Regions from separate parts of the Homo sapiens genome. Here region 2 is linked to region 1. Evidence: fine-mapped QTL for protein levels in blood plasma. A gene starts in region 1. The other region holds a variant in brackets. All regions are shown on one strand. Distances are from middle to middle.

Evidence for each region. PIP is the chance, under the fine-mapping model, that this variant and not a neighbour inherited with it causes the effect. Sun 2018 read protein levels with aptamers (SomaScan).
Region 2: its variant is fine-mapped to the plasma level of the RSPO4 protein (Sun 2018, PIP 0.95).

What each region holds. Positions count from the first base shown.
Region 1 is chr20:998,606-1,009,328 of GRCh38, forward strand. RSPO4 (R-spondin 4) reads right to left here and starts at 3,706. Exons shown (of 5, transcript NM_001029871.4): 1 at 3,481-3,706. The coding sequence starts at 3,559. RefSeq lists an enhancer at 7,041-7,335 and a silencer at 7,130-7,310.
Region 2 is chr20:956,046-966,768 of GRCh38, forward strand. It overlaps RSPO4 (R-spondin 4), which reads right to left. Exons shown (of 5, transcript NM_001029871.4): 4 at 7,890-8,075; 5 at 2,407-4,421. The coding sequence ends at 4,312. Among named protein-coding and RNA genes, the nearest start is that of RSPO4, 41 kb to the right of the region's middle. The variant C/T (reference allele first, on the strand shown) is at 7,149.

The sequences.
Region 1 (10,723 bases):
ATTCCTCGGGATTGTGCAGACCTGGCCAAACGCTAAGGCCAAAGACTCAGGCATGGGGGAGGCTGGAGAAAGGTGGGAAAGGGTCATCCCTCTATGTTGGCAGCTCCCCAAGGACAGGCCCAGGGCTGCTCACCTGGGTATCTCCAAGGTCCCCAACACAGAGCCTGGCACAGAGGCTGCCCTGTGAAATGAACAAGTGAATGAATGAAGCACTGCCAATACCCAGGTGTTTTCAGGACACATTCTCCTGCCAAAGTTAGATAAGGTCAAAGCTGGTAGGACCCTGAGGGATTGTGTACAGAATTTTCCAAGCAGATGCCTTATGAGAAATGGTCTCTGATGTGTAATATGTTTGGGAAAGGTCACTCTCTCTCGCTCTCTTTTTTTTTTTTTTTTTTTGAGACAGGGTCTGCTCTGTCGCCCAGGCTGGGGTGCAGTGGCACAATCACGGCTCACTGCAGCCTTGATGTCTTTCCTGGGCTGAAGCGATCCTCCCACTTCGGCTTCCTAAGTAGCTGGGACTACAGGTGTGCACCACCACCAACATGCCTGGCTATTTTTTGTATTTTTTTATAGAGACAAAAAATGTATTTTTTGTAGAGTTTTGCCATGTTGCCCAGGCTGGTCTCGAACTCCTGAGCTCAAGCTATCCTCCCATCTTGGCCTCCCAAAGTGCCAGGATTATAGGCTTGAGCCATCGCACCTGGGTTACACTGTCTGTCTCCACCTCTTCAGCATGCTCTGATAAGTCTCACAGCCAAGAAATCTGCTAAACCCAGCATTTCCCAATCTATTTGACCAGAACTCCTGTGGCTGCCTTGCAAAATATGCTACAGGAAGGGTTTATCTAGCTCTGGTCCCCACTGCAGTGCCAGTGGGAAACTGAGGCTATGGGCGGGGGACAGAGAAAATCCACTCACCCAAGGTCACATGATACAACTGGGTCAGGGGTGTGACTGAAATCCAAGGCTATCTCCATTGTACCCCAACAAATAAATGGAGCCCTAAGCCTCTTCTGAAGATGCTAGGCAGGTGTGTGTCCCAGAGGCAAGAGATCAGGTACTGGAGGAGGGATGCTGAGAGCCCCTCACCAAATTGCGGCCATATCCCTACCTCCTCACTGAGCTCCTGGGGAGGTGGTGGTGAGCTGTAGATGGGGCGGGGGGCAAAAGGGGCAGGATAGGAATTTTTCATTTTTCTTTAATTTTTTTGTCTTTTTTGAGCTGAGAAGCATCTTAAAGTCTTCTAAACCAGCTCCTTTTTGTTGTTGTTGTTGTTGTTGAGACAGAGTCTCACTCTGACACCCAGGCTGGAGTGCAGTGGCATGATCTCGGCTCACTGCAACCTCTGCCTCCTGGGTTCAAGCGACTCTCCTGCCTCAGCCTCCCAAGTAGCTGGAATTACAGGCGCCCGCCACCACACCCAGCTAATCATTGTATTTTTAGTAAAGACAGGGTTTCATCATGTTAGCCAGGCTGGTCTCAAACTCCTGATCTCAAATGATCCGCCTGCCTTGGCCTCCCAAAGTGCTGGTATTACAGGCGTGAGCCACCACACCTGGCCTAAACCAGCTCCTCTTTAGATGAGGAAACTGAGGCTCTGAGAAGGGAAGACCAGCACACCTCAGAAGATATCTTCTCAGCATTATGTCAGGCAGATTGGGATTCGAGCCTGCTTTGCTACTCACCTGCTGTGCGACCTTGGACAAGTCAGTTTCCTTCTCTGAACCTCAGTTCCCTCATCCAGAAAACAAGCATCTCTCCCCTCCCTCCACTAAGCCACTGTGAGTAGCCAAAGACACAGTGGACAGGAAATGAGAATGATTAATACTTACGAGCACCCATTAGGAGCCTGTGTCCTTAGCTACTCATCTTGCCCACAATCCTCCTTATGAGCAGGATACTTAAGTAAAAGATGGGTTGATGAAGGGAAAGGGGGTTTGTTTGATTTTTTGGTATTGTTTAGAATGGAGAAAGATCTCAGAGATCTTCTAAAGGACCCTCAGATGGGTAAAGTGAGGATTGGACAGGCAAAGTGACTTATCCAAAGTCACTCAGTTGGTAACTGGGGAAGCTGGGATTTGAACTCAGTTGACCTGGCTCCAGAGCCCATGCCCCTAACTACTAAACAAAGGCCATTCACAAAGGAGTGTCCCCATAGAGTCCCAAACTCACCCCAGCTCAGCTGAAAACCACACGCCTCTCTAGTCCCTTGTCCCACTGTCACAGCAAGAACTGGAGCCTCTTGGGCCACAGTCTCCCCAACCCCATCCAATCCCACCTCCCAATTCTCCCACAGCCTCTGTCTGCTTCCTGCTCCGTTCCAGGAGTGACTGTGTCGCTGTAGGGCTTTCACACAAATGGAAGGCCCCAGAGGGCAACCCATCCTCTCTCATTTTCCTTCCCCTTTATCCTTGCTCAGACCCGATGCCAGGGCTGGAAAGAGAGAAGACACCAGCTGGACAATTCAGCAGTTATTTAAACCAGTCTGAGCCTTGGAATCCCAGGCTTTATTAAAACTGGACGACCCCTATGTCATGAGCATATAGTTGGGATTTGATGAGCTAGGACATGAAAAACCCGTGGCATAGTGGCTGGCATTCGGCTGCTGATCTTAAGAGTGGCACCTGGAGGCCAAAGGGCTGCCCAGCTCAGGCAGGCGATTTGCTCACTTGCTCACCCGCTTACCCTTCTCTGAGGCACAGGCTCTACCAACTCCTGCTCTGCAGGGACAGCCTCCAACCCACCTTCTGAGGATGTTCTGACTCTCACAGCGAGGCTGTGGCATAGGACTCCCAGGTGAGAGCGCATGCGGCCCCTGGTACATTTATAATCTGAACCTTGGCTCATCTTCCTAGTGGCCTGAGAGGTGAAGATGGAAAAGCTGAGGCTCTCTGAGGGGCTGGACTTCTTCTAGGTCATCCCCTATTAGAATAAGTGAACCTGAACTCAGGTCTCAGGTCTGGCTGAACTCAACATAGGGGGGCCATGGAGGATCACTGCCCTCTGGGAGGTGACACCAGGAGTCAGGGTGAGTGATGAGGCTGGGACTGGGGCCTCTGGACGCCCAGCCCAAGGCTCTCTATGTCACTTCCTGGCCGAGCATGGATGCTTGGAATGGCTTCTACGCCACTGAGTCTGTCTCCTAGTCCCTGTGCCCCGCAGGCTGGCTCTTGAGTCTTCTGTCTCTGCACGAAGCCATCCTCCTTTCTGCTGACCATGCGGCTACTACAGAGAGCCCTGCTACCCTCTCCCTTCTGGGTGAGTCTCCTTGGCCCACCCTACTCAATGGCTCGCTCACTGGGTGCCCTGGAGCCTCAATCTCCCCATCTTAAGTGAGGTTGAGACTCGTCTGGAGGAGCGAAGGACCCAGGGCGCCAGGCACCAGGCAGATGCCCCCAGAGCCGCCGCCCCCGGTCCTCCGGCCCCCGGTCTGCCCCGCAGCGCCTGCCCGGCCGCCCTGCCCAGCCACCCCTTGTACCTTGCTTCTTCCTTCGGTTCAGGGCGAGCATGTCCACGGCGTGGGCGACGAGCAGGAGCAGGCAGAGTGGCGCCCGCATCTGGGCAGCCGGATCCGGGCTGGCGCTCCCCAGGCGGCCCGACGGCCCAAGGGCCCCACGTCCCGGCGGCGGCACGGCGGGCGCGGGGGCTGCTGTGGGCGCGCCGGGCGCATCCGCCAGGCGCGGGTCGGTCCGGCCGCCAGGTCTAGTGAGGGCGTTGGCGGAGCCGGGGCACTGCCCTGGCGGGGAGGAGCCGGCGCGGCGGGGGCGGCGCGTTAACCAGCTCGGGGCCCGGGAGCGCGCGCGGGGAGGGGGCGGGGGTCACCCGGGTCGGGGCCCTCGAGTTCGATCTGTCCCGCAGCCGGCGGTCTTGCGTCTTTCCCGCCCCCAGCACTGCCCCCGAGCACGTGCACGTGCCCACCGCCAGCCACAGGTACGCACGCGCGCGCAGGTACAGATGCGCGGACACCCGGAGACCCGTACGGTCCCCCGCGCCCTCTCAGCGCCTGTGATTTTCTTTCCCTCCCCCCAGTCCCCTTTCTCTGTCTGTTCCTCCTTCTGGCCCTTAAGGACAACTCCTTGTCTCCTGCTTTCTCGGTCTTTCCGCGGCCCGCGCTCCCCTGCTCTGCCCCCGACCCTGCCTGGCTGTTCCTGCATCCTTTACTCTTGCCGGCCGTCTCTCTCTCAGGCTCACTGTCTGTGTCCTCCTGGCTGGGCCTCTGGTTCTCCCTTTTCTCTGTCTCTCCCTTCAACCCCATCTCTCCCCTTCTCCCCTCCTGCAGGGTGGGGTGTTTGCGGGGCTCCTGCTGCCTGGCTTTCTCTTTTTCTCTCTACTCTGTCTCATTCTTTTAACAGAGGCCTGAGCCCCTTCTGGCCACTAACCCTGAATGTTTCCTGTGCAGTCTGCGGGGATCATCTACTCCGACTCAAAGTGACCAGCACCTCATAAATCCACTTGTGACAGGGCTGGGGACCTGGACTGTGTTTCCTCCAACCTTATCACCAGGACTGGGAGCAGCTGGTTCAAGTTTAACCCTTTCAGAGCAAAATTCCTCCTTCAACCCGACAGCATGCTCACCTCTCCTGTCACTATAACCACCAAAAACAACAACAATCATGCTAGCTATCATTTGTGAGGCATATATGGTGGGCATTGCTAAGAACTTGACATATACTAGAGTCTTCAAAACAACCCAATGGTTTGGGTTTGTATTCTGAGTAATTCCACTTTTCTGGGGAGCAAAGGGAAGCTCAGAGAGGCCAAGTGACTTGCCCAAGGCCACACAGCAGGTCAGTGGCCATTCTGGTCCAGTGCCTGCCCCTCTTAGCCACTTCTCAGGCACAGACTCATCAGAATGGAAGAGGCCTTGGAGGGAGGCCTAGAGAAACTTACAGTTGACACTCTCTTGCTGAACAATTGTCCTTCCTTTTTCTTTTCTTTTTTTTTTCTTTTTTTTGAGATGGGTTTTCACTCTGTCACCCAGGCTGGAGTGCAATGGCGCCATCTCGGCTCACTGCAACCTCTGCCTCCTGGGTTCAAGTGATTCTCCTGCCTCAGCCTCCCAAGTAGCTGGGATTACAGGCACCTGCCACCACACCCAGCTAATTTTTGTAGTTTTTAGTAGAGACGGGGTTTCACCATGTTGGCCAGGCTGGTCTTGAACTCCTGACCTCAAGTGATCCACCTGCCTCAGCCTCCCAAAGTGCTGGGACTACAGACGTGAGCCACCCCACCCAGCCTGTCCTCTTTTTTCCTACATGTGGAGCTTGCTCCAAAAGAAATGGAAGGTAAATGCTGGTATCTCCTCCAGCTCCTTCTCCCAGTGCAATGAGGGACACTTGAAGGCATGGCAGGGGCAGGGGAAACACACAGAGAGTGTGGCAGCTGAAGGTACAGCCCTGGCCTGGCCATTCTTTCTGTGGGGCCCCAAGAACGCTGGCAGACAACACGGAGAACTTGGTGGAATGTCAGAGACAGCCCACCCAAAGTGCTCCATTTCACAGATGAGGCCACTGAGCCTTCAGGACTGGGGGGTGCCTAGATTAGGCCACCCAGTGAGTCAAGGACTGAGCTGACATGGGCATCCAGGTGTCCCATTGTGGTCATCACCATGGCCTGCAAGGACCTCTTGTTCTGATATCTCTGATCTCAGTCTTTCCCACTGCCCCACCCCTCTCTCTTTAGCCTTAGAGATTTCAGCCCTTGAATATTTCACAAACACCACAGGCCTCTCACACCTCTGAGCTTTTCATGTTGTGGGGCCTCTCCATGGAATACCATCCTATATCCTACCTCCTTCTTCACTGCCTCTGCTCCAGGAAGCCTTCCCTGATTCTCAGGCCAGGTCCAGTGCCTCCTCTGGGCATCCACAATCTCTTTATCACAGCTCTGATCACATCAGGTGGTAACAATGGATGTGTCTGTTCTCCTTCCAAACTGCCATCTCTTTCAAGCCAGAGCCAGACACACAGCGGTGCTCAGAATGTTTGCATAATGAGTGCATAAATAAATGAATGGTGAATGAATGAATTCTCCAGATGCACAAGTCTCCCAGCCTGTACATGGAATGCAGGTACTTGGAGAAATGAGGTGACCCCAGAAGATCAAGCCTTAGGAAAGCGGAGGTCATTCCCTTCCCCACTACCCCCAGTACTGGAGTCTCCAAAGTCCAAAGGGGACAGCTTCCATGTGAGCAGGGCCAGAGAGGTCCAATGTGCATTGTGAATTGACAGCCAGCCACACGGCTCTGCAGGATGAAGCTGCTTACCCCTTCTTGAATTTTTTCCCCTATTTATTCCCCACTGCCTCTGCTCTAGCTAGCCTCGTGTTTCTCAGACTCTTGTCACTCATCCTGCGGTTTTTGCTGTTCTCTCTGCCTGGAAAGTCTTTCCCCAGATTTGGGGCTTGTCTCCCCTCGATGTTGCCTCCTCAGAGAGGCCCCCTGTGACCACTCCAGTAAAACGCACCACCATGCACTTTATCCTCTTGTCTTGCTTTACCCTCCGTAGTACCTGTTCATGTCTGTCAGTTCCTGTTTGCTTGTTTGTGAGTTCCATGAGGACAGGAATCTTCTATTTTGTCCCTATGTGCCTTACACTGCAGTGATTAAGACATACTTGTGGAATGGATTTTTTTAAAAAATGAGTGAATGAATAAGCACTCATTCATCCATAGATTCATTGTGGGACCTCAAGTACTTTCTGTTCTCTTAGGCTCAATTTCCCCAGTTGTTCAATGGCACAGATGGGATTTTGTGTTCTGTGAGAGCCCCTTTAGTGCTTCCAGAATTGGATATTTCTAGGGTTCTAAGGCCCAGAACTCAGGGCCCTTCATACCCCAAGATGCTCAGAGGGTGTTTGGTTCTCTAACTATGGGGGCTGTCTGGGCATCTTGGCCTGTTATCCAGTTCCCCTACCCCAATACAGGTGCCCAGGGAGGCTAGTGATGCTGATGGCATGCTCTGGCGGGGGGCGGGGAGGGGTGCACCCAAGGGTGTCAGTTAAGGCACCATTGTCACAAATAGATGAAGACAGGTATAATGGCTGAAACACACTAAGCTCACAGCATGTGTTCCTGATCAGCAGATCCTTCTCTGTGGGATAGCAGGAACTCAGATTCCTTTCAGCTTGTGTTCTGCCCTGTTCAGTACCTGGTTTAAAGCTCACCGAGAAGGGCAGGGCTTATGGGAAGTACAGAGCCTGTCTACCTATGTCCCATTGGCCAGAACTCAGACACACGGCCACACCTACCTGCAAGGGTGACTGGGAAATGTAGTCCAGCCATGTGCCAGACAACACACAGGAGGAAAAGCAAGAATTTGGTGAACATCTGGCCCATTGACCAACGTTGGGCCACCCTCATTTCTTGCCCCAGTCATGCAGTAGCTCCTTCCTGTGTCTGCTCTGACCCCTACAAGCTCTTCTTAAGCAGCCAGAGGACATGTATTATTCATCGGGTGAAGACCAAATTTCTCCTCAGAGATGCAAGGGCTACGTGATGGCCCCTACTAGGGGGCCATCTGCTAGGGTGACCAGCTGTCTGGTTTGCCAGGGATTGAGGGGCTTCCTAGGATGCAACGTTGACCTGTGTGTAGCCTTGTATAATACAACCACAATCAAGATATTTAAACATACTTAAACAAGATACTAAAACATCATCACAAGACTCCTTCATGGTATCCATTTATGGCTCCACCCTCCCTCTCCACTTCCAGTCCTAATCCCTAGCAACCGCTAATCTGTTCTCCATCTCTGTAATGTTTTATTTTTTGAGACAGGGTCTTGCTGTGTCACCCAGGCTGAAGTGCAGTGGCACGATCATGGCTCACTGCAGCCTTGACCTCCTGGGCTAAAGCTTCTCCTGCCTCAGCTGTGTAGCCTGGACTACAGGTGCATGCCACCATGGCTGGCTAATTTTTTATTTTTTGCAGAGGTGAGGTTTCGCCATATTTCCCAGGCTGGTCTTGAACTCCTGGGCTCAAGTGATTCTTCCACCTCGGCTTCCCAAAGTGCTGGGATTATAGGTGTGAATCACCACGCCTGGCCTCCCATCTCTATAACTGTTTTTACATAAATATTGTATAATGGAGTCATGCAGTATGCATCTTTTTGAGATTTGGCTTTCTTCACTCAGCACAATTTGTTTGGAGATTCATTTTAGTTTTGCATGTATTAGTTATTTGCTTTTTACTGCTGAGTAGTATTCCACCGTATGAATGTAATATAGTTTGTTTAACCATTCACCCACTGAAGGACATTTGGGTATTTTCTAGTTTTTCATTATTAAGAATAAAGGTGCCATGCTCACTTGTGTATAGGTTTCTGTGTATCCTCTTTGGTGAAATGTCTGTGCATATCTTTCACACATTTTAAATTGGATTTTTACATTACTATTGTGTTTTAAGAGTTCTATGTATATATTCTATATAGAAGTTCTTTGTTGGTTACGTGATTTGCAAAGCGTGAGATTTATGTCAAGGTTCATTTTGTATTTTTGTTTATTTTTTTATGTTTTTGTTTGTTTATTTTTATGTTCGTTTTTAATTTTTGTTTATTTCGAGGTTCATTTTTTATTTTTCGTCTGCGGATGTCCAATTGCTCCAGTATGCTTTGATGTAAAAGCTTTATCAAAAATTAATTGGGCATATTGGCATGGATTTATTTTGGGGCTGTCTCCTGTATTCCATGGGCTATGTGTCTTTCTGTCTACCAATACTACACTGTACTGATTACTGTAACTATATAATAAATCTTGAAATTGGGTAGATGGATCCTTCCCACTTTATTCTTCTTTTTCAAAATTATTTTAGCTATTCTAGTTCCTCTGCCTTTTCATATATATTTTAGAATAATCTTGTTTATATCTACCAAGAATCTTGCTGTGAGTTTGATTAGAATTGCATTAAACATGTATATGAATTTGGGAAGAATTCACATCTTTACTATATTGAGTCTTTCAATCCAAAAACATAGTATGTCTCTCCATTTGTTTAGATCTTCTTTGACTTTTTTAAATAAATGTTTTGTCATTTTCAGCATACAACTCCTGTGCATGTTTTGTTAGATTTATACCTATTTCCTTTTTTCTCCCTTAGAAATTATACATGGTATTCTATTTTAAATTTTGCTGTCCGTGTGTTCATTGCTAGCAGATAGAAATACAACTGATGTTCGTGTGTTGATCTTGTATCCTAGCACCTTGCTGAACTCATATATTAGTTCTAGGAGTATTTTTGTAGATTTTTTTGGGTTTTGCAACATTGACAATCATATCAACTGCAAATAGCGACAGTTTTCTTTCCTTCTGATCTTGTGCCTTTTGTTTCCTTTACCTGCTTTATCAAACTTGCTAGAACTTCCAGCCATATGCCGAGTAAGTGTGATGAGCATAGACATCCTTGTTCTCAATCTTGCCTGGTTCCCAATCTTAGTGGGAAAGCATTCAGTCATTCACTATGACATTAGACTGTAGGACTTTTGTAGACACTCTATATCACCTTGAGGAAGATCCTCTCTATTGCTACTTTTCTGAGCATTTTTTAAAATTATGAATGGCTGTTGAATTTTGTCAAATGTTTTTCCTGCACATTGGTATAATCATTTAATGTTTATTCTTTAGTCTACTGATACGATGTATTACATTGATTGATTTTTAAGTATAAAACCAACCTTTCTTCAATGGAATAAGCCCCACTTGGCCATGGTGTACCATTCTCCATTATATACTGCTGAATTCTACCTACTAATATTTTGCTGAGGATTTTTGTGTCTAAATCCATTAAGAATATTGGTCTATATTTCTCTTTTTTGTTCTGTCTTTGTCTGGTTTTGGTAGCAGGGTAATGCCAGCCCCAGTAGCACCAGAAGAACAAGGCTTACTAGAATAGAATTGCAAGGGTTCCAGGCCAAGTGCGGTGGCCTATGCCTGTAATCCCAGCATTTTGGGAGGCTGAGGTGGGCGGATCACTTGAGGTCAGGAGTTCGAGACCAGCCTGGCCAACATGGTGAAACCCCATCTCTATTAAAAATACAAAAATTAGCCACGTGTGGTGGTGCATGCCAGTAATCCCAGCTACTTGGGAGGCTGAGGCAGGAGAATCACTTGAGCCCTGGAGGCAGAGGTTGCAGTGAGCCAAGATCGTGCCATTGCACTCCAGTCTGGGTGACAAGAGCAAGACTCCTCTCAAAAAAAAAAAATAAATAAATAATTGCAAGGGTTCCAACAAGTTTACTGTCATTGGACCTAAAGCCCACAAAAGTAAACGAGAACTCACATGCTACATTTAAACAGGGAAACTGCTGCCTGCTAAACTAAAGTATGAAATAAGACCTGAAGTTCCAACTGATGCTAATACTAAAATGACTCAGATGTTGAAATTGTCTGACAAGGATTTTAAAGCAGTCATCATAAAAATGCTTTGGCAAGGAATTATGAAATCTCTTGAAACAAATGAAAACAGAAAATCTCAGCAAAGAAATGGAAGTTATATAAAAGGATCAAACAGAAATTTTAGAAATGAAAAATACCATAACTGGGGGAAAAAACTTTGCTAATGGACTCATTAGTACAGTGGAGAAGTTCAGTGATGGACAAATACCCCAACTCTCTATTGAATGGGCAGGATGGCCGGACACATAAAACATGCCACGCTGTCTCCTGCCACAATTCCCCAGCCCTGCCATGCTGACTTCAGAGGGACTGAGCTTCAGTTGCCCACGGTGCTG
Region 2 (10,723 bases), 43 kb before region 1:
ACATAGCAAGACTCTTTCTCTACAGATAATTTTAAACATAGCTGGGTATTGTGGTGTGCATCTGTAGTCCCAGTTACTTGGGAGGCTGAGGTGGGAGGATCAACTGATCCCTGCAGGTCGAGGCTGCAGTGAGCCGGGATCATGTCACCGACCTCCAGTCTGGGCGATAGAGCTATTACCCATCTTAAAAAACAAACAAACAAAGACAGAAAAAAGAAATTTTCTTCCAAGCGAAAATGGAGAGGTGTAATCCCCATAGGTCACCTGGGCCAGATGTCTGGGCAGGAGGTCATGCTCTGAGTCAGATTTCCCTTCTGTGCAAGGAAGGACCTGGGACAGGGACCTCTGAGTCTGACACTCTCTGCACAGCTGAGAAGGCCATTCAGCTGAAGTCCCCATTGCAACTGTTGTCCTTCAGCCTGAGGCAGTCAGTCCTTCGGTCTGAGGCAGCCTGTCCCTTGCCCTCGGCTACCCTCCACCCTGCTCCAGTCCTGCTAGGAGAGAACCGCAACACGACCCCGTTTCAGAAATGCGCTCCTTGACAAGCCTGGCTGCGACCTGTTCCTGGTTGACTGCCGTCATCCGGTGGCAGCATGTGGGAATGACATGCAGGGCTGTGGTGAGGATGAGGATGGAGTGAGCGGGTGGGGGGAACTGCAGAGAGGGCCCTAGTGTGGCCCAGTTGGAAGCGGTGACAGGAAGAACCCACCAGGGATTCCTCAGCTCTGGCCAAGGGGTTGTTCTCTCCCTCTGGCATAGCATCCAGAAGGCCAATAGCAGCGGAACCTCCCCCTGGGCTCTGCCCAGACTGCCTCTCTTTGGCTGTGTGACCTCACCCTGTTTCTGAGCTTCTCTGTGAACTTCTCCAAGCTTGGCTTGTAAGAAGGGAGTGGGCGATGCCCACCTGACAGCAGAGTCTCCTTCCCAGAGAGGCCCCTCAATCCTCCAGAGAATGTGGGAGAGGCTGGGATTTGAAAGGATTGGAGCTGGGGGCAGGGAACGTCTGAGATGGAAAGGTTATAGGAGGGGCTTAGGCCCTGAAGAAATTTCATCCTGTAATTTGAAAATATTAAAAAACCACCACAGCCCCCAGCTGAGGACAGAGGACCAGGCCCCCCAAGAAGAAAGAACATGGCCAGGGAATTGCAGTACTGGAAACTTCTACCCTTATGTTGGTCTTTTAGAATTGTGAAAATTAGAACGTTCAGCATCCTAAAACTGGAATCTTAACAGAAAACACTATATAGTGTATGTATGTGTGTGTGTGTGTGTGTGTGTATATATATATATATTTATATATATATTTATTTATATAGGGGCTGGGTACAGTGGCTCATGCCTGTAATCCCAGCACTTTGGGAGGCTGAGGTGGGAGGATCATTTGAGGCCAGGAGTTCAAAACTAGCCTGGGTAACATATTGAGACCCCCATCTCTACAAAAAATAAAAAATTAGCTGGGTGTGGTGGTGTACACCTGTAGTCCCAGCTACTTGGGAGGCTGAGGCAAGAGGATTGCTTGAGGCCAGGAGTTTGAGGCTGCAGTGAGTTGTGATCGTACCACTGCACTCCAACCTGGGTGACAGATCAAGACCCTGCCAAAAAAAAAAAAAAATTAAAAAGATACACACACATACACACACACATACAGACTAAACTCTGTAGAATCAGATCATTGAGCCTTGAGGTCAGAATCAGAATTGCAGCTGCAAATCTAGACTCAGCCCTCTGAGCTGGAAGTCATCTGAGAGCCACCTCTCCCCTCAGCTTGTCCTGGAAAGAATGTTTGCTCTCACTGCCTGCTCCTAAACTTGTTTGCAATGAATAGATCTGGGGGAGGGCCCCAAAACCTGAATTTCTAAAAGGCTCCCCAGGGGATTCTGTTGTTGGGTCTTCCAGATTTCGGCAATAGATTTAATTTAGCCAGGCTTCCTCTTCATCACATTCATCACATGGGAAAACTGAGGCCCCGGAAGGGGAAGTGACTTGACCTGGACCCCATCAGATAGCTGGTGACAGGCTGGAGCTCCCACCTGTGCCTCCCAATGCCAAGGCCACTCTCACCAGCAGCCCAGGGTGTTTAGATGGCCCCGTGGGACTGTCAACCTCCTAGGTACCCCTGGTCCCTGAGACATCTGGTTCGTGAAACTGCGAGGTTCTGGGGATCGAGGTGTCACCCTCTTCTGCCTCTGGCTGAGTCTGCTTCTTGAGAGTAGCCTGGAGGGGCTGAGGGCCCCTCCTCTTTTATCAGCTCCCCCCAAGCTGAAACCCCACCCCAATCCCCAATACACTCTGACCCCTCTCAGCCCCAAGCATTCCTGTGAAAACCACTCCACATGTTTTAAATTCTGCTACTCCAAACTCAGCAGTATCATGGTTTTGCAACACCCTCTTGATGCTCAAGAAGCATTTACAAGTTTCTTTTCCCTTTATTAAGAAAGTTTTAAAAAAAAGTTAGGGTCTTGAAACAATAACAACGGAGCATTTCAGAGGCACAAACGTTTGCAGAAGAGAAGCTGGTGGCCTGGCCAGGCGGAGGAGGGGGCTCTAGCTGTTCTCGGGGAGGTGAGAGCAGGGAAGTCAGAGAGAGGGTGGGCCTGCTGGGAGGGGGGGGTTCAGGCCAGGGCTCCCCAGCTGCCAGGTGGAGGGCAGGTCTGAGGGTGGGTGCTCTCTTGGGGTCGGGAATGTAATATTTCATCACCTAGAGCCTCTCCCCCAGCCTGCTGACCATCTTCCTTCCCCAGGCCACCCCTGGGCCCCTTGGAGCTCCGACTCTTGCTTCTCCTGCCCATTCCTGTCCCAGTCACGGAGCCCTACGTGTTCAGGCCAACCAGTCACGGCAAATACAAATCCCGTTTCTGAGGATTCCGGGGAGCAGAGCAGGAAGGGGGTGTTATGATGGCAGAAGGATAGGCAGTGAGGACAGACTTGCTTCCAAGCTGGGTCTGACCTGGAGACTCCTCCCAGCGTCGTTCCTGCCTAGGGCGAGGGGCGTCACAGCGAAGCACAGATGCTCAAGTCACTGGTGGTGGGTGTGGGCGAGTGTGGTGGTGGGTGTGGGGGAGTGTGGTGGTGGGTGTGGGGCAGTGTGGTGGTGGGTGTGGGCGAGTGCGGTGATGGGTGTGGGCAAGTGTGGGGGTGGGTGTCAGCGTGTGGGGGTGGGTGTCAGCGAGTGTGGTGGTGGGTGTGGACGAGTGCACGGATCTTCCCTTGCTCCCCACCCACAATTCCCTACATTTCCCCCCTCAAGTGACCCCCAAATTCTCCTCTCCACCGTGAATGTGCTGAGCAGAGCCATCAGGCAGAAGCAGAGCCTGAAGGCTTCCTGTGTGACCCTGGGCAAGCCCCTTCCTTCTCAGACCTGTTTCCCCACATGGGCAGGAAGCGCTGAGGTGGGGAACAGAGCTGCTGGATAATCTCAGCTTTCCTTTCCGTTTCAGTGGCCTCTTCTGGGCTGGGCAGGTGGATCCCCCAGCAGTGACAGCTCACCTGATCCGGCTTGGGAAAAAGGGGCATGGAACCCATGAGAGGGAGGCCTGTGGGGGAGTGCCGATGAGGGTGGCAGGCAGCTTGCAGAGGATGCCCTCCAGGGCTGGCTGCCCACCCAGAGGCCAGGTTGTGACCCTCCACGGCCAGCTGGGGGAGGTGTCCAAGCCAGGCCTCTGGAAGCCCTGGAGCCTTGTCCAGCCAGCTCCTCGGGGTGGCTGGTGGCTGAAGGCTGTGGAAATGGCCTCTGGGGACTGTCCAGAGAACCAGGTGCTCACAGCTCAGGGTCCTGGAGCCTCCCCCAGAGCAGAAGCAGGGCCTTCAGGATTCACCTGTGCTGTGTCCCAGCTTTGCCCTCTGGAAACCCTTTCTCTGCAAAGATGGGGTCAGGGAAAGGCCTGGGAAAAGATGTTTGCTTTCTTTAAGTTGTAGATAGAGAAAGCTGCAGGGGAGGGCACAGGCTCATGGTCCCTCTTAAAGTGTGTGTGAGAGGGAGACAAGAGGAGGGAGAGAGAGAAGGATGCGGTGAAGGACAGGAAGAAACACAGGAAGAAAGAAAAGGAAAGATAAAAGATAAGTGAGAAAGAAGAGGAAGGAAGGGAAGGAGGGAGGGAGAAAGGAGAGGAGAATGGAGGTGGAAGAAATAAAGGAAATAAAAAAGAAAAAGAAAGGGAAGGTAGACTGACAGAAAAATGATAGAAGGGTGGAAAGAAAGAGAGGACAAATGGAGAAGACAGAGGAGAAAGAGTAAGAGGAGAGGAGGAGAAGGAGCAGGAGGAGGTGTGCAGGGGCCGAGGACTAGGACCAGAGAGTCGGGAGAGCCGGCGGTCAGGGCTGCAGGCCGGGCTGGCGCGGCCTCACGTCCAGCCTGCGGTCCAGCTTCCTGTCCTTGCGTGGGCGCCGGTCCTTCCTGCCCTTCTTCTGGCCGGGGCTCCTCTCTGCAATGAGAGGACAGAGCCCGGTGACCAAGGCTGCAGGGCCAGTTAGGTCCTGGGAGCCTCCTCAGTCCTGAAAGACAAGGGTGCCCCACCCACTCCCCAACAACGGGGCTCAGAACATTTGGGCACTGACCTTGCAGTCCCTCCTGTTGAGAGTTTGGACCGTGGGCTAAGGTACCCCAAACTGAACCTTTCTCTCTAGGTCTTCAGGGAGTGGCGAGGGCCACTAACTTGTTCAGGGCCTTCTTGTGCTGGACATCTGGCTCGGCCAGGCCTGCAGGTTCACCTGGGGCCCCCCAATCAGCATGTCGGGTGGCCTCATGGGAGTCCCCATGGCTTTCCCCGGCACACTCCTTCCATAGCTGAGCAGGCTCTGTGCTGGACGCTGGACACCTTTCATCTGTGTCCCTGCACCAACTTCTGCATAACACTGTGGCAACAATACTTCAGCATTTAGCAAGCGCTCACTGTATGCAGGCCACAGCCCCAAGTGCTTTATGTATACGAAACTCACAACAGCCGAGAGAGGCAGGTAGGGTCTGAGCCACACCCAGTCCCGTCTTCTCCAATTGTCCTCTCTTTCTCTCCACCCTTCTATCATTTTTCTGTGCCAGGCTACCTTTCCTTTCTTTTTCTTCTTTATTTCCTTTATTCCTTCCACCTCCACTCTGGCTGTGCCCGCTGCCCAGGGAGTTCTTCTGAGCAGTTGCCTGTCATTGTTATGGACAGGTGAGAAGACCACAGCATGGTTGGGAGCAAGGCCAGCCCTAAGTTTCTGCTTTACAAAGTGTCTCCACACCCAGGACATTCTCCTACATTGCTTGGGCCCCATTCAGTTCCCCGCAAGGAGCTGTGTGTCCATTTGAACACGATGAACCTGAGGCTCCATGAGTCACTTTCTGAAGGTGCGCAGCGAGGCTGTTAGAGACCCTCTGAGCCTAGTGGCAAGGGGAGGGCAGTTTTATTCCTTGGGTGTCAACTATGTGCCCGTCTCCCCAAGAGTCAGGGCTGTGGCTCCAGTCCTGGCTCCTTCCTCTGCAGAGCAGAGTCAAGGAGCTAAGACCAGGCTACCCACCTCTGGGGCTCCCCACGCCCACTCTGAGCTCTTGGGGAGCACTGAGGCCAACTCCCACTCTGAGCTGCAGAGCTGACTGTGCAGGCCTCAGGTAGGACAGCATCTGGAGATGGGGTGTGGGTGCTGCCTGAGTGGCCCTGCCGGCTCTGATGTGGGGGTGTGGGGGCCAGTGGCTTTGTGTCCCTACCCCTTCCCTAGGCCTGCCTGCCAGCTGCTCATGTACCCATCCAGTCACCCACCCATCCCTCCACCTATTTACCCACCTACACACTCACCCACCTATTCACCCATCTACTCACCCACCTCCATACCCAATGACCCATCCATCCACCTAGGCACCCACCCATCACCTATCCATCCACCTGTTCACCTATCTACCTACCTACCCACCCACCTAATCATCCACCTACCTACTCATCCACCCACCTACCCTCCCATCTACCCTCCTATCCACCCATCTACCTACCCACTCACCCACCTGTGCATTCAGCCATCCATCCACTCATCCAACAAATATTAACTGGATACCGACTATGTGCCAGACTGTGTTAGAGGCACTAGAGAGACAGCTGTGAACAAGGCAGATAAAGCCCTTGCCGTCACTGGAGATCACACTCCAGTAAGGAAAACAGACGCTGAACAAGCAAACACGAGAATGAGAAGGCTCATTTCAGAAGGGTGCAAGTGCTACCATGTGATATGATGGAAAATGACTCCGGGGAGGGGGACTCCTGGGAAGCCTCTCTGAGGAGGAGCCACTGCAGCCAAGACCTGGGTGATGCAGGGAGCTACAGCGGGGTTGTTGCGAGGATTAGAGTCATGTTTCACAGCACTAAGCACAGCCAGCACATGGTAGATGCTTTATGAATGTTTGCAGTTATTGTGATTATTATTATCCAGGGGAAAAGCTTTCCCCTCATGATTCCCCAACAGCCATTCACCCCCAGCTCTTGGAGCCATGAGAGGTGCCATGTGGTAATGAGTGCAGAAGAACTGTCTGCCTCCTGTGTGAGTCCTGCTCTGGCTCTGGGGTCTCTTAGGTTCTCTGGTTCCACCTCAACCTCACTCTGTCCTCACCTGCCCAACATGACTCCCAAAGGCTCCTATCTCTGCTAGCTGCACTCCCAACCCAAATAGCACAAGTCCTTCTGAAAGAGGAGTGTCCCTGAGTTCAAATCCTGGCTCCACTATGTCCCAGCTGGGTGCCCCGGGTGGCCTGGTTCCAGGTCCCTCATCCTTCATCATGACTTTAGATTCCTCTTTGCATGACGAGTTACGTTTGAATTCTAGGTCTACAGCTCCCTGGCTTTGTGACCCTTAGGTGAGTGACTCAACCTTTCTGGGCCTCAGTCCCCTCATCTGTAAAATGGGGATAGTGCTAATAACACCTACCGCATAGCATCACTGCGAAGATTACATGAGTTAACGATTATAGAGAATTCGGCACAGTGCCCAGTCAACACTGCCAATACTACTCACCGTTCACATCTTACCAAGCACACCCTGTGGCCTCTCTTCTATGTAAATCAGTGGTCCTTCATAGCCCCCAGAAACATTTTGGAAATACGTGTAGTGGTCTTGAATGGCACAGTGAAGGGGGTTCCTGTGGCATTCAGTGGACGGCAATCGGGATCCAGCGTGGGACAGTCCCC[C/T]GCAAAGACGAGCTGTCCCCCTGTTCCATCCAGTTCTCTCACATCGTGCCCCACCCTCACGTAGCTGAAAAGTCTGCTTGCTGGGAGCTGAATTCTGTTTGACTCATGAATACCAATTGGTTTCGAACACTTCCATTCACTGAAGATTCTAGGGCACTGTGAGTGTGGTGTCAATCAGAGATCAATTGGGTTGGACCTTACTAATCATTGGTCACTGTTGGGAAATCGCATCTCTGATGGCGATGTGGCCACGTACTTGGGGCGCTGACCACGGCCGCGGTCCTCACTGGGATTGTACTTCCCTAAGTGTCTGTTGGTATGTTGGGCCAAGCGCTTCCATCAAGAAATTTCTTTTCTTTCTCCTCTATATTACAGTTAGGACACTATACTGATAAAAAAAAATTACCTTTGCAAGTAGGCCACATTCTCCATGAACTTCATTAAGAATGATAAAGAGGGTATTCCCAAATCCTTCTTATTAAAAGGGGGGTGTTCAGTTTGAGAGGGTTGGGAACTCCTGGCCAGCTCAATTTTCCTAATGTATTTGGGACTGAACCCAGCAAGGAAGGCCCTCCTTTGAAAGGACACCAGGGAAGGTGATGTGTACTCCACATGATAGTATGGCTAATGGTGGCCTTTCAGGCAGTCTCATAGATACTATTTGTGGGGCAGTGATCTGAGTCCGCCCTGTCCCTGTGGGCCTTTCCCACCGCAGCCTCGTGTGCCTGTCCTGGGGCTCACCTCCTGGGCAGGGCCTCTGGATGGGACATTTCCTTGACTCAGAAAGCACCTGGCAGGTGGCTGCCTCCTCATGCCCAGCCCGGCCAGCCTCTCGTACCCGGCTCTCCAGGCCCCAAGCCGAGCCGCAGGTCTTTCCATTGTGTGTGCAGGGGCTCCAGCCGCCCCAGGGACCCAGTTCACACTCCCCTGTGGGGTGAAAGGAGAGACAGACAGACAGACAGACAGGGTCAGCCGGCAGTGAGGGTCCTTCAGATCCAAGGGCAGGGTTTGAGGGGTTCAGTCCTCTGAAGACTGAAGACACCACTTCCACCTGCTAGGAGCAGAGTTATTTATAAGAGCCTGGAATGAGAGCGAAACGAATGCATGCACAGACTAATATGGGCCTGAAGCCAGAGCGGCCGACTGTCTAGCTTTAAAGGAAAGGCTTCCTGGAGGAGGTGATGTATGAGTTAAAGGGAGAGAGGGGAGCTCGTCAGGTGAGAAGAAGGAAGCCCATTCCAGGCAGGTGTGCAAAGCCTTGGGAGCCCGGCCCACCATGTTTGGGAGATGGGGCAGCCTGAGTTGGGAGTCAAGTCTCAGGAAGGCGGGGACAGGAGAGGAGGCTGGAAGGTTGCCTGGGAAGCCCTCAGGACCAGGACACAGGTTTTAAACTTGATCATGTGTCTTTGATCAACTTTGGAAGGAAGAAAAAGGAGGCCATGGACATAAAAGTTCTTCATAGGGGGTAATAAAAATACATATATACATGTATATATATATATACACACACACACACATATATATATACACATATATATACACACACACACATATATATACACATATATATACACACACACACACATATATATATACACATATATACACACATACACACACACACACACACACACACACATATATATATATATATACTTTGATTATTTTAAAAGTCCATGAGAAGTAGGCACAGAATATGGGTAGCTATGAATACTCCTATTTTGTAGATTTGGACACTGAGACCTAGAGCAGAGGTTTGCTAAGGGAACGCAGCAAGAGGCTCACACAGCAGACACAGCAAGCTCAAGACACAGTGGGACCCAGACCTTGCTAGATACACACATTTGACAAGTAAAGACTGAGCACCCAGTGTATGCCAGGTGCTATTCTGGGTGCTGAGGGAGCAGCAGCAGACAAGACAGCCCAGGGTCTGCAGGCCTCCTGGAATTCACCATCTGGACACCGCCGTGATGAGGGAAGTGCAGGCACCGTGGGAGCCCAGAAGCAGCATGGGTTGGGTTGTAGGGGAGGAAACCCCTGGACTGGGTCTTGAAGTGGGGGTGGGATGGCGGGGAAGGGGAGCCTAGCCAGGCTCAGGGAGGGACGGGAGGTGCTCCAAGTGAGGGCATAACCCCAGCAGAGTCCCCAGGATGATTTGGCCTGGAACTGGGCAAGCCGGAGAATAAGCTCAAACTGAGGAGGAAAAAAATGATGGGGGTGGAAAGGCTGGCAGATGGGACAGATTGCCCAGGGCCTGGGTGGGCTCCGCCCAAGGGCAGTGGGAGCCACTGAAGGGTCCTGGGAGGAAAAGAAATTGAGCAGACTATCATTGTGAAATACTCCCTCTGCTGTTGAGTGGAGACTGGGCTGGAGGGACTGAGAACCAAGGCGGGAGACGGGCAGGAGCTGTGGCCAGAACCCTGGCGATAGGCAGGGGGTGGCAAGAGGGTGGGAAGAGGGCGGCACAGAGGACAGAAACAAATGGGTGGGGAGAAAGGGATGAGCTGAATGGTGTGGGTTTGGGAGCTTCGTGCTGCTTCATTTTCACCCCAAAGTTCTTCCTACCACCCAAAATATTATGCATTTGTTCTCAGGTGTCGCTTCTGTCTCTCCACTGAAATGTCATGTCCTTGAGTGCAGAGGCTTTGTCTGTTTTGTTCTGTAATGTGTCTCCAGCACCTAGGAAAGTGCCTGGCCATAGCAGATGCTCTAGTAGATATTTTCAGAGTGAATAAATGAACAGATTGGATTGAATATAGGGTGAGGGAGAGAGAAGAGTCAACAGCGATGTCTGCATCTCGCGCATGCCACCCAGGGATCAGGGAGCTGGTTATTGAAACCCAGAGGAAACCCAGAGGGAGCGTTAGGTGGGGGATGGTGGCAGTGGGAGTGGAAAGAAGGCACCCAGAGGGCAGTGGAGGTGAGGATCAGCTGCTCAGGGAGGCTGGAGACACGGAGTCAGGGGCCATCAGCAGCTGGAATGACCATGAATGTGAGCCCGGAGGGAATGCGTGGGCAGAGAGGCACAGTGTAGATGAGAATGCCAAGGAGCAGCCTAGTGCAGGAACGGGAGGGCTCACAGGCAGGAGTGTGACAAGGAGCTGTTAGGAAATAATCAGAGCAGTAATAACACTGATACTGACACGTACTGAGCATCTACTGTGTGCTGGCTGCTGTACTGAGCACTTTAAATTGTACTAATTCACTTTATCCTCATAACAATTCCTCCCCATGAGGTAGGCTCTATGTTCTATTGTCTTTTTTTTTTTCTAACGTTTGGAGAAACCGAAGGACAGAGAGCTGAGGTGGTTTGCTTAAGATCACTAAAGGGTAAGGTTTAGAGCTAGGATTGGACCCCAGGCCTGTCCTATTCCAAAATCAGTGCTCAGCCAGGTGTGGTGGCTCATACCTATACTCCCAATGCTTTGGGAGGCTGAGGTGGGAAGACCGCTTGAGCCCAGGGGCAGCCTGGGCAACATAGCAAGAGCCTGTCTTTACAAAAACATAAACGCATAGCCAGCTGTTGTGGTACATGCCTGTGGTCCCAGTTACTCGGGAGGCTGAGGCGGGAGGAT